Linked DNA regions of Homo sapiens: all the other regions are linked to region 3. Evidence: fine-mapped QTL for protein levels in blood plasma. A gene starts in region 3. Each other region holds a variant in brackets. All regions are shown on one strand. Distances are between the middles of the regions. Region 1 has its middle 260 kb from the start of MIR7160. Region 2 overlaps MYOM2 (myomesin 2). Region 3 holds the start of MYOM2 (myomesin 2).

The links. PIP is the posterior inclusion probability: the model's chance that the variant is causal. The UK Biobank Pharma Proteomics Project read protein levels with antibody pairs (Olink). The fine-mapping took linkage between variants from a reference panel, not from the people measured, so its PIPs are less certain.
Region 1: its variant is fine-mapped to the plasma level of the MYOM2 protein (UK Biobank, PIP above 0.99).
Region 2: its variant is fine-mapped to the plasma level of the MYOM2 protein (UK Biobank, PIP above 0.99). The variant lies in the coding sequence of MYOM2. If it changes the protein, the assay may bind it differently, which can mimic a change of level.

The regions. Positions count from the first base shown.
Region 1 is chr8:2,334,922-2,339,160 of GRCh38, reverse strand. No RefSeq gene overlaps it. Among named protein-coding and RNA genes, the nearest start is that of MIR7160, 260 kb to the right of the region's middle. RefSeq lists enhancers at 1,149-1,887, 1,888-2,626. The variant G/A (reference allele first, on the strand shown) is at 2,163.
Region 2 is chr8:2,104,014-2,108,252 of GRCh38, reverse strand. It overlaps MYOM2 (myomesin 2), which reads right to left. Exons shown (of 37, transcript NM_003970.4): 22 at 1,855-2,011; 23 at 1,656-1,762. Among named protein-coding and RNA genes, the nearest start is that of MIR7160, 30 kb to the right of the region's middle. RefSeq lists an enhancer at 1,462-2,660. The variant T/C (reference allele first, on the strand shown) is at 1,966.
Region 3 is chr8:2,042,771-2,047,009 of GRCh38, reverse strand. MYOM2 (myomesin 2) reads right to left here and starts at 1,964. Exons shown (of 37, transcript NM_003970.4): 1 at 1,842-1,964.

The DNA of each region.
Region 1 (4,239 bases), 290 kb before region 3:
TGTCTTTGCATGTGAGATGGGTCTCCTGAATACAGCACACCAACGGCTCTTGACTCTTTATCCAATTTGCTATTCTGTGACTTTTAATTGGGGCATTTAGCCCATTTATATTTAAGGTTAATATTGTTATGTGTGAATTTGATCCTGTCATTATGATGCTAGCTGGTTATTTTCCCCATTAGTTGATGCAGATTTTTCATAGTGTTGATGGCCTTTACATTTTGGTTTGTTTTTGCAGTGGCTGGTACTGGTTTTTCCTTTCCATATTTAGTGCTTCCTTGAGGAGCTCTTGTAAGACAGGCCTGCTGGTGACAAAACCCCTCAGCATTTTCTGGTCTGTAAGAGATTCTATGTCTCCTTCACTTATGAAGGTTAGTTTGGCTGGATATGAAATTCTGGGTTAAAAATTCTTTTATTTAATAATGTTGAATCTTGGCCCTCACTCTCTTCTGGCTTGTAGGGTTTCTGCAGAGAGATCCACTGTTAATCTGATGGGCTTCCTTTTGTGGGTAACCCAACCTCTGTTTCTGGCTGCCCTTAACATTTTTTCCTTCATTTCAAACTTGGTGAATCTGATGATTATGTGTCTTGGGGTTGTTCTTCTCCAGGAGTATCTTTGTGGTGTTCTCTGTATTTCCTGAATTTGAATGTTGGCCTGTCTTGCTAGACTGGGGAGGTTCTCCTGGATAATATCCTGAAGTGTGTTTTCCAACTTGGCTCCATTCTCCCCGTCACTTTCAGGTACACCAATCAAACGTAGGTTTGGTCTTTTCACATAGTCCCATAGTTCTTGGAGGCTTTGTTCATTCCTTTTCATTCTTTTTTCTCTAATCTTGTCTTCATGCTTTATTTCATTAAGTTGATCTTCAATCTCTGATATGATTTCTCCCACTTGATCAATTCTAGTATTGATACTTGTATATGCTTCACGAAGTTTTTGTGCTGTGTTTTCAGCTCCATCAGTTCATTTATGTTCTTCTCTAAACTGGATATTCTAGTTAGCAATTCTTCTAACCTTTTATTAAGGTTCTTAGCTTCCTTGCATTGGGTTAGAACATGCTCCTTTAGCTCAGAGGAGTTTATTACCCACCTTCGGAAGCCTACTTCCATCAATTTGTCAAACTCATTCTCTGTCTAGTTTTGTTTCTTTGCTGGTGAGGAGTTGTGATCCTTTGGAAGAGAAGCAGCATTCTAGTTTTTGGAATTTTCAGCCATTCTGTGCTGGGTTTTCCTCATCTTTGTGGATTTATCTACCTTTGGTCTTTGCTGTTGGTGACCTTCGAATCCTTTTTGTTGATGTTATTGCTTTCTGTTTGTTAGTTTTCCTTCTAACAGTCAGGACTCTCTTCTGCAGGTCTGCTGGAGTTTGCTGGGGGTCCACTCCACACCCTGTTTGCCTGGGTATCACAAGGGGAGGCTGCAGAACAGCAAAAATTGCTGCCTGCTCCTTCCTCTGGAAGCTTCATCCCAGAGGGGAACCTGCCAGATGGCAGTTGGAGCTCTCCTGTATGAGGTGTCTGTCAACCCCTGCTGGGAGGTGTATCCCAGTCAGGAGGCATGGGGGTCAGGGACCCACTTGAGGAGGCAGTCTGACCCTTAGCAGAGTTTGAATGCTGTGCTGGGAGAGCTGCTGCTCTCTTCAGAGCCGGGACGCAGGAACGCTTAAGTCTGCTGAAGCTGCACCCACAACTGCCTCTTCCCCCAGGTGCTCTGTCCCAGGGAGGTGGGAGTTTTATCTATAAGTCCCTGACTGGGGCTGCTGCCTTTCTTTCAGAAATGCCCTGCCCAGAGAGGAGGAATCTAGAGAGGCAGTCTGGCTACAGCGACTTTGCAGCTTGGCAGTGTTCTCTGCCCAGTCTGAACTTCTGGTGTCTTTGTTTACACTGCGAGTAGAAAACCGCCTACTCAAGCCTCAGTAATGGCAGACACCCCTCCCCCAACCAAGCTCAAGCATCCCAGGTTGACCAGACTGCTGTGCTGGCAGCTAGAATTTCCAGCCAGTGGATCTTAGCTTGCTGGGTTCTGTTGGGGTGGGATCCACTGGAGCAAGACCACTTGGCTGCCTGGCTTCAGCCCCCTTTCCAGGGGAGTGAATGGTTCTGTCTCGCTGATGTTCCAGGCGCCACTGGGGTACAAAAAAAGACTCCTGCAGCTAGCTCGGC[G/A]TCTGCCCAAATGGCGGCCCAGTTTTGTGCTTGAAACTCAGGTCCATTGTGGTGTAGGTACCCGAGGGAATCTCCTGGTGTGTGGGTTGTGAAGACTGTGGGAAAAGCATCGTATCTCGGCCTGACAGCACCATCTCTCACAGCACAGTCCCTCACGGCTTCCCTTGGCTAGGGGAGGGAGTTACCCAGCCCCTTTTGCTTCCTGGGTGAGGCAATGCCCCACCCTGCTTCTGCTCACCCTCCATGGGCTGCACCCACTGTCTAACCAGCCCCAATGAGACGAACCAAGTACCTCAGTTGGAAATGCAGAAATCACCCACCTTCTGCGTTGGTCTCGCTGGGAGCTGCAGACTGGAGCTGTCCTATCTGGCCATCTTGCCTGGGAATCCCCAGTTTCCATATCTTTTAATCTAGGCAACATTTTGCTTCACTAGACATGGAAAATACATCTGTGGTATATTAAAGTGATGAATGCACATTGGTGTAGTAATCTCAGCAGGCTTCAGTCATTTTTTTGTTAGATATTAATTTCTTGAAGGAAAAGAAAATAGATTATTTTGGATATATGATCTGTCTTCTAGGAGAAGTACTAATTAATCCCGAAAAACAGATGTACTGTAAAGAAAATCAATAAAAGCTCTCTAAAAACTCACAGACTCAGGGATTAGATTTGTCCAATATTTCTTTGTTACATTGAATAAACTCTCCACTTCATGATTCAAAATCAATAATAAACTGTATTACTTATGTATAAACAAACTCACTGTGAGGGATTTCACTCTTCATATATGTTTTATAGATGAATTTTAGAAGCAGCCTACTTGTTTGTAGATTATGAAAATATTACTTTAACATACAAATAGGAATACAGAATATTTGAATAACAACAATATTAGAATATAGCTAAATGTGCTACGAAAATACTACTGTTCACTCATTCAGCAAATAGTTATTGAATACTGTCCTGAGCTTTTCCTGCTGCTATAACAAAATTTCTTAGACTGAATAATTTATAAAGTCCTGAAATTGATTTTTCATAGTTCCGGAGGCTGGGAAGCTCAACGTCAAGGTGCTGGCAGATTTAGTGTCTGACGAGGGCTGTCTTCATTCCAGCCAATCAGAAGAGGAAAAGAGCACAGATGCTCAAACATGCAATTTTTCATGAGCCAAGTTTGAAAGAGGTATAAATCTTCTATACTCACATCCCATTGGTCAATTCCATCTTAACGTATCACCCACTTAAAAGGGGATGAGAAATGTGGCTTCTGGCTGAGTGTTCATTTTCCAGCATTGTCTTACATTACGAAAGTGGAAAAAGGGAATTTTGTGAACAGCAAAACGTGGCTCCTCCAACTTCAACCTTCTTGAGTTTTGTAAGGTTGGTGGACTGGACAGGAATTTTTTTTTAATATTTTTATTCCTTCGTAATATTTATTGCCTCGTAATATTTATTCCCTTTTCTGTCTTGTATGGTTTTGGCATCTGAATTTTCCTAGTGTTACAGAATAAAATTGAGAGTTTGCCCTCTCTTTCTGTACCTTAGAATTATTCATAGAAAGTATATTGCTCTGTTCTGTGACAACTTGGAAGAACAACTCTGTAAAACAATTTCAGCCAATTGTTTACTTAATAAAGAATTTTTAAACTGATTCCAGTGATATTTTGGTTTTCTATTCCTTTTTTATTCAATTTTGGTAAAATATTCTTAGCTATTTGGACATTTTATCTCAATTTTCTAATTTTATGGCAAAATAGCCTTTTATTACCCTGTCAATCTCTGTTGAATAGATGGTATGTCACTTTTTCATTTTTACAATTATTTATTCTGGAATTTCTCTTCCTTTTTTCTCCTAGATCTAGCTCAAGATAGGCCTATCACGATTTTGTTTGTTTGTTTTGTTTCTTTGTTTCAGCTTTTCAGAGGACAAAATTTTCACATTAATATTTTTATTTTTCATATACCTATTTTATTATCTTTATGATCTCCTTTATTAATTTGGATAATTGCGTTTTACTTTTTCTAAATTACTCTGTTGAACATTTTAAAATATAGTACCCATGGTATCATTTAGTTTAA
Region 2 (4,239 bases), 61 kb before region 3:
ACAAAATACACTGCATTTTGCATTCCTGAGAAAGTCTCAAGAGCAAGGTAAGAAAATCTGGGCTCTAAGCCACTTCATTTTCTCTCCTTCCTTCTTAAAATTAGAATCAGAAAGAAGATGGTGATCTCCAAGGCCTTCAAGAACATGTCTATTCAAAATGGAAAAATGAAGTTAGATTTTTCTGCCCAAAAGTAAATTCATATTGGCAACTGGTTTCACAGGGAGGACTGGCTTTCCCAGTTCAACCTTCTGGTAGGAATTTCCATACATGGAATGAACTAAATCTTCAACTGCAAAGTTTTACCTCAAATATATTTGAAGTCTATACACAATATAAGAGAAGGTGGAATTTTTTCTTTTGCAAGTATTTAAAAAAGTTAAAATTAAGATGGAAACTTTGAAATGGTGCAGAGGAATGCACAGCTTTTCAGAAGTCCTTCAGGATGTCGTGAAGGTACAAAACTGTGTCAAGACCCTGGAGGCAGGGCCAACAGAGGCTGCTTTAAAAGCATGCAAATGGATTTTGGGTCCTTCCCCACCCTGCCTGTGAGTGGTGAACTGAGGACCCCAGAAAGGCGAGACAGTGCGGCCTCCTCATTTGTCTGCCTGTGTCTTGTTAAATGTGCATGAGTTTTCCTGAATTTCACCAACATTGAGCCAAACCTGCACACTCGAGAAGCCGAGAGTGTGATTCTGGCTTCCCCCTCCGTGGATACCTGCCCATCCTCCTGCCCAGCCCACAGCACCGATCCTGGGTCGGATGTTCTCAGATCACAGCCTCTGCATGATATCAACCAGGACAGTGATTGATAACTAAAGGATCTGCTTGTAAACCTTAGGACTCCCCTGGAGATCATTTATGCCATCCCTGGAGAGCACTTTAATAGAAAACTTTTGGAAATTCAAATGCCTTAGACACCCAAAGAAACCCAGAAATCTGAGGATACCATCCAGCCCTACGAGTTCACGCTGCACCACTGCCCCTTCGTTTAAAAATGTCTAAGGCTGACGCTGTCCTGTGGGTGGGGTAGATGACGGGCCACACAAATACACGTGATGCTAGGCAGTTTAAAAAAATCAGCCCTGCCTGCATGAGACTGTGTGCCTGGTGAACTCAGACCTGTGAACCTATCTAAGAAAACTATTGTTTTTCCCCTTGATCACTAAACAGACTTTTCTCACTTCTCTCTGCCGTCTTCCATGGGTAACACAGCAGCAGATTTTCACTTCGTCAGTTAAAATTATTTTACATGCATAAAAAAATTTTTCTTTGATCATCTGATTTCTCAGTGTTGGAAGGAAGGGAAGACTCTTCCACCCGTAGGTCTCTCATTAATTTCATGGATTTCTTAGTTAATATGTTACCCTCTGCATACCAAACTATTAAAATGTGGCTAAGACTCAACTTTAAAAGTACAAATTGAAGGCTATACAAGCAATATATCAGGACCAGAGACTACTTGGTGGAAACAGTATAAACTTTAGAGTTTGTTTAATTTCTAAAGCAAGTTTTGGCTTATATACATAGCCCCCACCGCCAGCCTCCTGCAAACATACGTCTTTTTTCTAAGCAAGTAAGTCTTTTCTATGTTGGTGTCAATCTTTGAAAGTGTGATAAAACCAAAACAGGCAAGGTTCTGCCATATAAATATTACCTTCTGGGTCCAGAACAAAACTGGAGGACACTCCGTCTGTATCACTTACAGACACGGAGTAAGTCCCTAAATCCTCCTTATCCGGATTCTTTAAGTACAGCTTGGAGCTAAAAAGGAAGAAGAGTAGGTGAATGTCGATCATTTCTGTTTGCAGGAACTTCTAAAAGTTTCCAGTATCCAACTTCCAGGCCTCACTTACTGATCCCCCACGGTTTCAATTTTAAACCTCTCATCATCTGAAATCTCCTCGTAGGATTTACACCAGGTGAACTGAGACGCGTCTGTCATTTCCTGGCAGTCGAAGCCCAGA[T/C]AGATGTTGCCTTGTTCATCGACACCAGCACTGATTTCCTTGGTGCCTGCATAAGAAGAGTATGAAGTGAGCGGCTTAGGGACACGGTGTTCTTTCAACTCTCTTTTGGGAGAGGGTGATATGGTTTGGCTCCGCGTCCACACCCAAATCTCATCTCAAATTGTAATCCCCAAGTGTAGAGGGAGTGAGGTGATTGGATCACGGGGGTGGTTTCCCCCATGCTGTCCTCATGATAGTGACTGAGTCTTATGAGATCTGATGGTTTTAGAAGCACCTGGCATTCCCCCTGCTGGCACTCACTCTGTCCTGCCGCCCTGTGAAGAAGTGCCCTCTGCCATGACTGTAAGTTTCCTGAGGCCTCCCCAGCCACGAAGGACTGTCAGTCAATTAAACCTCTTTTCTTTATAAGTCACCCAGTCTCAGATATTTCTTCATACCAGCGTGAGAACGGACTAATGCCGAGGGGGTACCCAATGCAGAGACCTCATCTTACACCAAATCATCAGTTGCATTTAATGACCCAGGACTGATGAGAGAATCGTGAGAGAGAAAACACTTTAGGGAGGACCTGGAGGGGCTTGGTTGTTTTGTTGTTGCTAATTTTTTTTAATTTACCATATTTCTGCACACGTCCTTCCCTGCATCTCATACAACTGCAGAAAACCTCTTAGGGCTGCCTCTCCAGGCCCTGAAGATCCTGTTCTCTCTGGAATCTCCTTCTCTGACCCTCAGGGGAAGCCCAGCAGCCATGTGCCCACCATGAAGCTCCCCCTTCACACAGCTCTGCCTTCTCCATGGGGCCTTGCCTTGTCTTGTTTGGGAGTAGGGGTTGTTTGTGGTTTATTTGCTACTTTTTGACCCAGGTGAACATCTGGCCGTGTGCAAGGCAGAATCTATGTCGTAGGAATTAGGAATTGGACGAGACACATCTCAGCCTCTGCTGGTGAGTGGAACTGAGGCCATGAAGTGTCAGTGCTCTCGGGTTATGAAGAAGACACAGATGCAAGGAAAGCCAGGTGGCAGGGTGAGATGAAGAGGCCACCACAGACAGCCATCAGGATCTTTACAGTCTGAGGCTGCACTGCTTCCTGACACTCAGGTCACACTCTGGGGCTGTGGTTTGGATGTGGATGATCCCCTCAAAACTCACATTGAAATGTAAAAGCCAGTGCAACGGTGTTGGGAGGTGGAGCCTTTAAGAAGTGATTAATGACTGGGGGCAGCACTCATGCCTGTAATCCCAGCACTTTGGGAGGCCGAGGCCAGAGGATCGCTTGAGCTCAGGAGTTCAAGACCAGCCTGGGCAACATAGTGAGATCCTGTCTCTATAAAAAACAGAATAATAAAAATTCTTTTTAAAAGAGGTGATTAGGTCGTTAAGATAGACTCGTGTCTTTCTGGAAAGACTGGGTAGATTCTTGCTAATAACCACGGCTGCTGGTTGGTTAAACTGGAATGGAGTAGTTCCAGTGAGAGTAAATGTTATAAAGCAAGGCTGCCTCCCATGCTGGGTCCGTTTCCGCACACACCCAGTTCTCTACCATGTTGTGGGGCAGCGGGAGGCCCTCACCGGAGCCACCAGAGCTGCCGGAGCCACCACAGCAGATCCCGGCACTGTGCTTCTTAGACTTCCCGCCTCCAGAATCATGAGCCAAATAAACTTTTTTTTTCTTTTTTTTTTTTTAAATGGAGTCTTGCTCCGTTGCCCAGGCTAGAGTGCAGTGGCGCGATCTCGGCTCACTGCAACCTCCGCCTCCCAGGTTCACCCCATTCTCCTGCCTCCGCCTCCTGAGTAGCTGGGACTACAGGCGCCCAACACCATGCCCAGCTAATTCTTTTTGTATTTTTTAGTAGAGACGGGGTTTCACTGTGTTAGCCAGGATGGTCTCGATCTCCTGACCTCGTGATCCGCCCGCCTCGGCTTCCCAAATTGCTGGGATTACAGGCGTGAGCCACCACACCCACGCCCCAATAAACTTTTAAAAACAATTACCCAGCCTCGGTGTTCTGTTACAGCAACACAAAATAGACTGTGTATCCTATGAGTGTGTGTCCTGCCTTCAGAAGTATTTGCCCTTTTTAGGTTGACTCCAGGGAACTTTTATTCGTTGAAATCAAGAAAATTACCAACAGCTTTTTAAAATTTTCTGATAAAAATCCAGCAGTAATATTTAAAAAATGCCCTCCTTCCTGCACGTGGCTTGACGATTCGAAGAACAACCCCTGCCAAGCATGAAGATGACCCAAAGTGCTCTCCTTCTCATCCAGGGCCAT
Region 3 (4,239 bases):
CATGTAAGCATTTCCTTTGAGAGTCATACCAGCGCTCACAAAGTTTCAGAATTTAGAGCATTCTGGATTTCTGATCTTCAGATTTGGAATGATCAACCTGTACTATTTATGACACTATAAAGAAAATGACAGGACCTGGGCCGATCAGCTCCCCAATGTCCCTCTACTGTCTACATAGAAAGCTGTTTTCCTTTTTAAGGAACTATCTCAGACATGTGTTAAATACCCCCTACACACACCAACCAAAAAAAAAAAAAAGAAAAAAGAAAGAGAGAGAGAAAGAAAGCAGCTTTTCCTCGCAGGGTAGTTTTTGATGTGAGTCCCTGGGGCTCAGGCGCATTGGGAGGCTGAGACTCCAGTGGGGACCTGCTGACCTTCAGCTCAGGGGCCTCCACCTGCTCTGCTGTAAAACAGGGGGCTGAGTGAGGTGGCAGCTAACAGTCCCCCAGCTTGGACAGCCTGTGTGTAGATAATCCTGGCGCCACGCTGTACTGTTAGCACAGACCGTCCCCAGGGAAATATGACTTGCCCGGGTCACCGGTAGGGCCACGGCCGAACCCAGGCGCCAGCTGACTCTCCTGACAGCGTCCAGCCCACTTTCCACCACAGCCCAGCTCCCCGGCCACTCCCGGAATGCTCCTGACACGTTTAGGAATCATGACACCAGGATGAAACGCGAGCCTCTCCTCCAGTGCAGGGGACCACGTGTCTGATATCCCCATCCTAATTCCTTCCTGCAAACAACGTGTGGAGCCCATTCCTCATGTCACCAGGATGGGTTTTAATTTGCAAAAATGTTTGAAGTACAAAACATTGACTTCCACTTAATGAAGGAAATTGTTTGTACAGTTAAAAATGTCAAAGTCAATAAATACACCAAATTAAAGCTTTCTAGAGGGGAAAGGGACTCCCAGACACGCAGCGTTGGCCTGTGCCACAAGTGGCTAAGCCCTTGGCTCCCAAGACAAGTTTTAGCTTGGGACTTGGTTTATTAAATAACGCCTTAAATTATCTTTGTTCCACGCTTTCTTTGAGTCCTGTTTTACTTCTACTTAGTAAGAAAGGAATGTGAAATGGAGAATTAGAAAAGGCCAGGTGTTCCCAGTGATGGCAAACCCCTTCCTTCCGTTTGCCTCCGGTGCCTTCCACGTGCAACCACCCAGCCCCACTGTCTTTCTCCAGCAGGTTGCATTTCAAGAGCACGCCCTGAGAAGGCACAGCCTCTATCAGCGGAGTGGAGCTGAAGAAGTCTGAAGGGTCACAACACACCCAACAGCACAAAGAAGAAAACAGCCGTAAGAACGCTGTCATTTTTGGGCAAAAACTTGCAAGTCCTGACAAGGATTGTTCTCTTTCCCATACCGTGGATAATATAGGCTAGGTCTAAGCTGAATGACCCTCGACTCTTTTTTCCCTTAAGAAAATATCCAGTTTTATTATTTCACACCTTTATAAGTCAGCCCTCTCCTCGGGGGAGGCTTTCGTTTCTGAGAATCTCATGAAACTTGCAGACATCAGTCCACTGACTGGGGGGCCCCCTGGGGCCACGATGAGACCAGGGCTAAAACCCAAAGCACACGCCGCAGGGTGCTAAACGGCACTTAGCAAAGACCACGGCTGTGGGAAATAAAATGTTAGTTGAGCATAAAACCTCGTCAAAGAAATACAGATCCCAGAACTAATTGCTCTGTTTTCCACAGTAAAGGGTGCCTGCGACGGGGTGCACTGGCTCTCTCTTCTTGACCCTGAAGTAGAGGTACTTAGAAAATGTGAGTGCAGAAGTTACCGGTCCTCCCCTTAAAGCCACAAATTAGAAAAGGCAAGAAGAGAAAGACACTTACCCAGACAGAAAGGAAAATTGCAAGGAGGAGAGAGAATTCCTGACCACCGGCTCACCAAGCCACCCACACTCCAGCCGAGGAAGGCAGAGCTGACTCCTGCAAAGCAAGCGCCTGTGCCTCCCTCCCGTTTAAGGTCTGAGGAGCTACTATATATAGACGCCTGGGCCTGCCTCTCCCCACATCAATACCCACATCGTAAATCACCAGCCTGACCTCAGGAGGAAAAGCTTCTTGTTCAAACTGAGGGCGGGGGAAATCACGATTCAAAACTGGAACGTGTCCTTTCTGAGTCCCAAACTGCACTTTTCCCAGGAAACCGGGTGTGACACTTCAGCCCCCGACCCAGAAAGAGAGGGCAGGGCACTGACTTCCCACGCTCCCTCCCCGCAACTCTCCTCCATGAGTTCTAATCCTTACGTGTGAATTCTCAGACATATCTTCAATCCTTTCGAGCTACAGGTTCCCTGGCTCACAAATTGCAACTCCTGAATGAGTCTTTAATAATGACATGGATTTCAGTGAGCATTTGTGCCATTCGCAGGCCTGGACACCCGAGTTGAGGTCGGCTGTGGAGGGAGGGAGGTGCACAAGCCCCTGGGTTTGTGAGCGTGTGTGTGCATGTTCGTGTGTTTGTTCGTTTTTTTTTTTTTATTTCAAGAACGACTCAGGTCTTCACTCGATTGTATCTTAGGGCTATTTTAGCAAGAACTGCCTACCCAAAAGAGGAGCGGTGCCTAGTCGGCAAGTCGGGGCTTATTTATAGCCATTACCACAGACGTACACTGCGTCTACACCACACGGATAATTGCAGGGTGCCCGTCGTTTCGCACAGCGTGTGTCCAAATATAGATAACACACACCTGGCACGGTCCTGGGCTGCAGCCTGGCCAAGAGGCGGGGCCTCAAGGGGATGCCCCCATCTGAGGACCCGGAGAATCACACTCCAGCTGCACCTCACCACAGGGGCTGAGGACTTCGGCCAGCTGCTCAGCCCACGGGGGCTATGCTCCCCAGCTCTAAAACGCATGGAATAACAACTTTCCTGTAAGTTTGTTGTGACAAGTAGAGAAAATATGATAAGAGAATTGCCTTAAGAAACTCCACGTTCTCACACTGGGGTATCAGAGGCACAGCCAAGGACCAGCGAGCAGGTGGATGGAGGCGAAGATCAGATACGAGAAAGACGCGAGCACAGCCTCTTGCTGGGCCCCAGAGCGTTCTGGATGCTGGATCAGGAGGCGAGTGTTTCTGTCTTCTTCCCCTTCGTATTCTGATGGCCTAGCATTTAATTTAATTAGTGTTTGTTGAGTGATTTCTTAGTCTATTCAGGCTGCTTTAGCAAAACACCATAGACCGTGTAGCTTATAAAACACAGGAGCTTCTTTCCCACAGTTCTGGGGACTGGAAGTCCAAGATCCAGGTACCAGCAGACACTGCCTGGGGAGAGCCTTCTGGTTCTGGGACGGCGCGGTCCCTGAGTCCTCACCAAGTCAAGGGGCCAGGCCGCTCTTGGGGCCTCTGTATGAGGATACTGATCCCACTCGGGAGGTTCCACCTCCATGACCTTGTCACTTCCCTAAGGCCCCACCTCCTCACACCATCGTTTTGGGGGTTAGGGTTTTAACCCACATATTTTGGGGGGGTTGCAAACAGCAAGACCAGAGCAAGCAATGTTTACTTCCGGTTTATCAGCATCTCCTTCTCTAGCGAATCCATTTCTCAGGGACCTGGGGGACTTCCCTTCAGCCCTTCTGCCCCCCTGCCTCTGAGTGTGGCCGACACTGGAGGGGCAGTGATGGTGCCTCGTCCCCTCAGGTGGCATCTCAGTCCTCTGAGTCCCAGTCCTGGCATCTCAGTCGCCTGGGTCCCAGTCCTAGCATCTCAGGAGGGGACAATCTCATCCCGGGGAGGGGCCTCTCCTGAGAGAAGGAAGGGCCAGCACACTCCTCCTCCTTTTCTGACATTTCACGGTGGCTGTGCCCTCCTTCTGTGATATAGAAATCCAGTGCTGCGTCTAAGAAAGCCTGGATCTTTCAGCCACACCACCCAGAGAGCAGAGTGTGACCCGGGACACAGATAGGCTCCTGATGGGGACAGAGCTTCGCCTTCTGCTGGGGACAGGAGACCCCTCCCCACCCTCCTCGTAGACCCCCATCTCCCTGAGCCATGCCTGCCCCTGCCCACCCGGGATGTAGCTTCCAAAACTCCCTGGGTGAGGTGCACCTGCAGGAAGCCTGGAGCCAAGAAGGGACAAAAGACGGAGGGAGGCGGTGGGACCAGGCATGGGCCCCGCATTCTCCACCAGACACACCAGCTCTGGGGCAGACAGGCTCCTTCTTGCCGGAGTTCCTTGGGCTGACTTTCTATCATCGGCCATCAAGAGAATCCTGACTAAGAC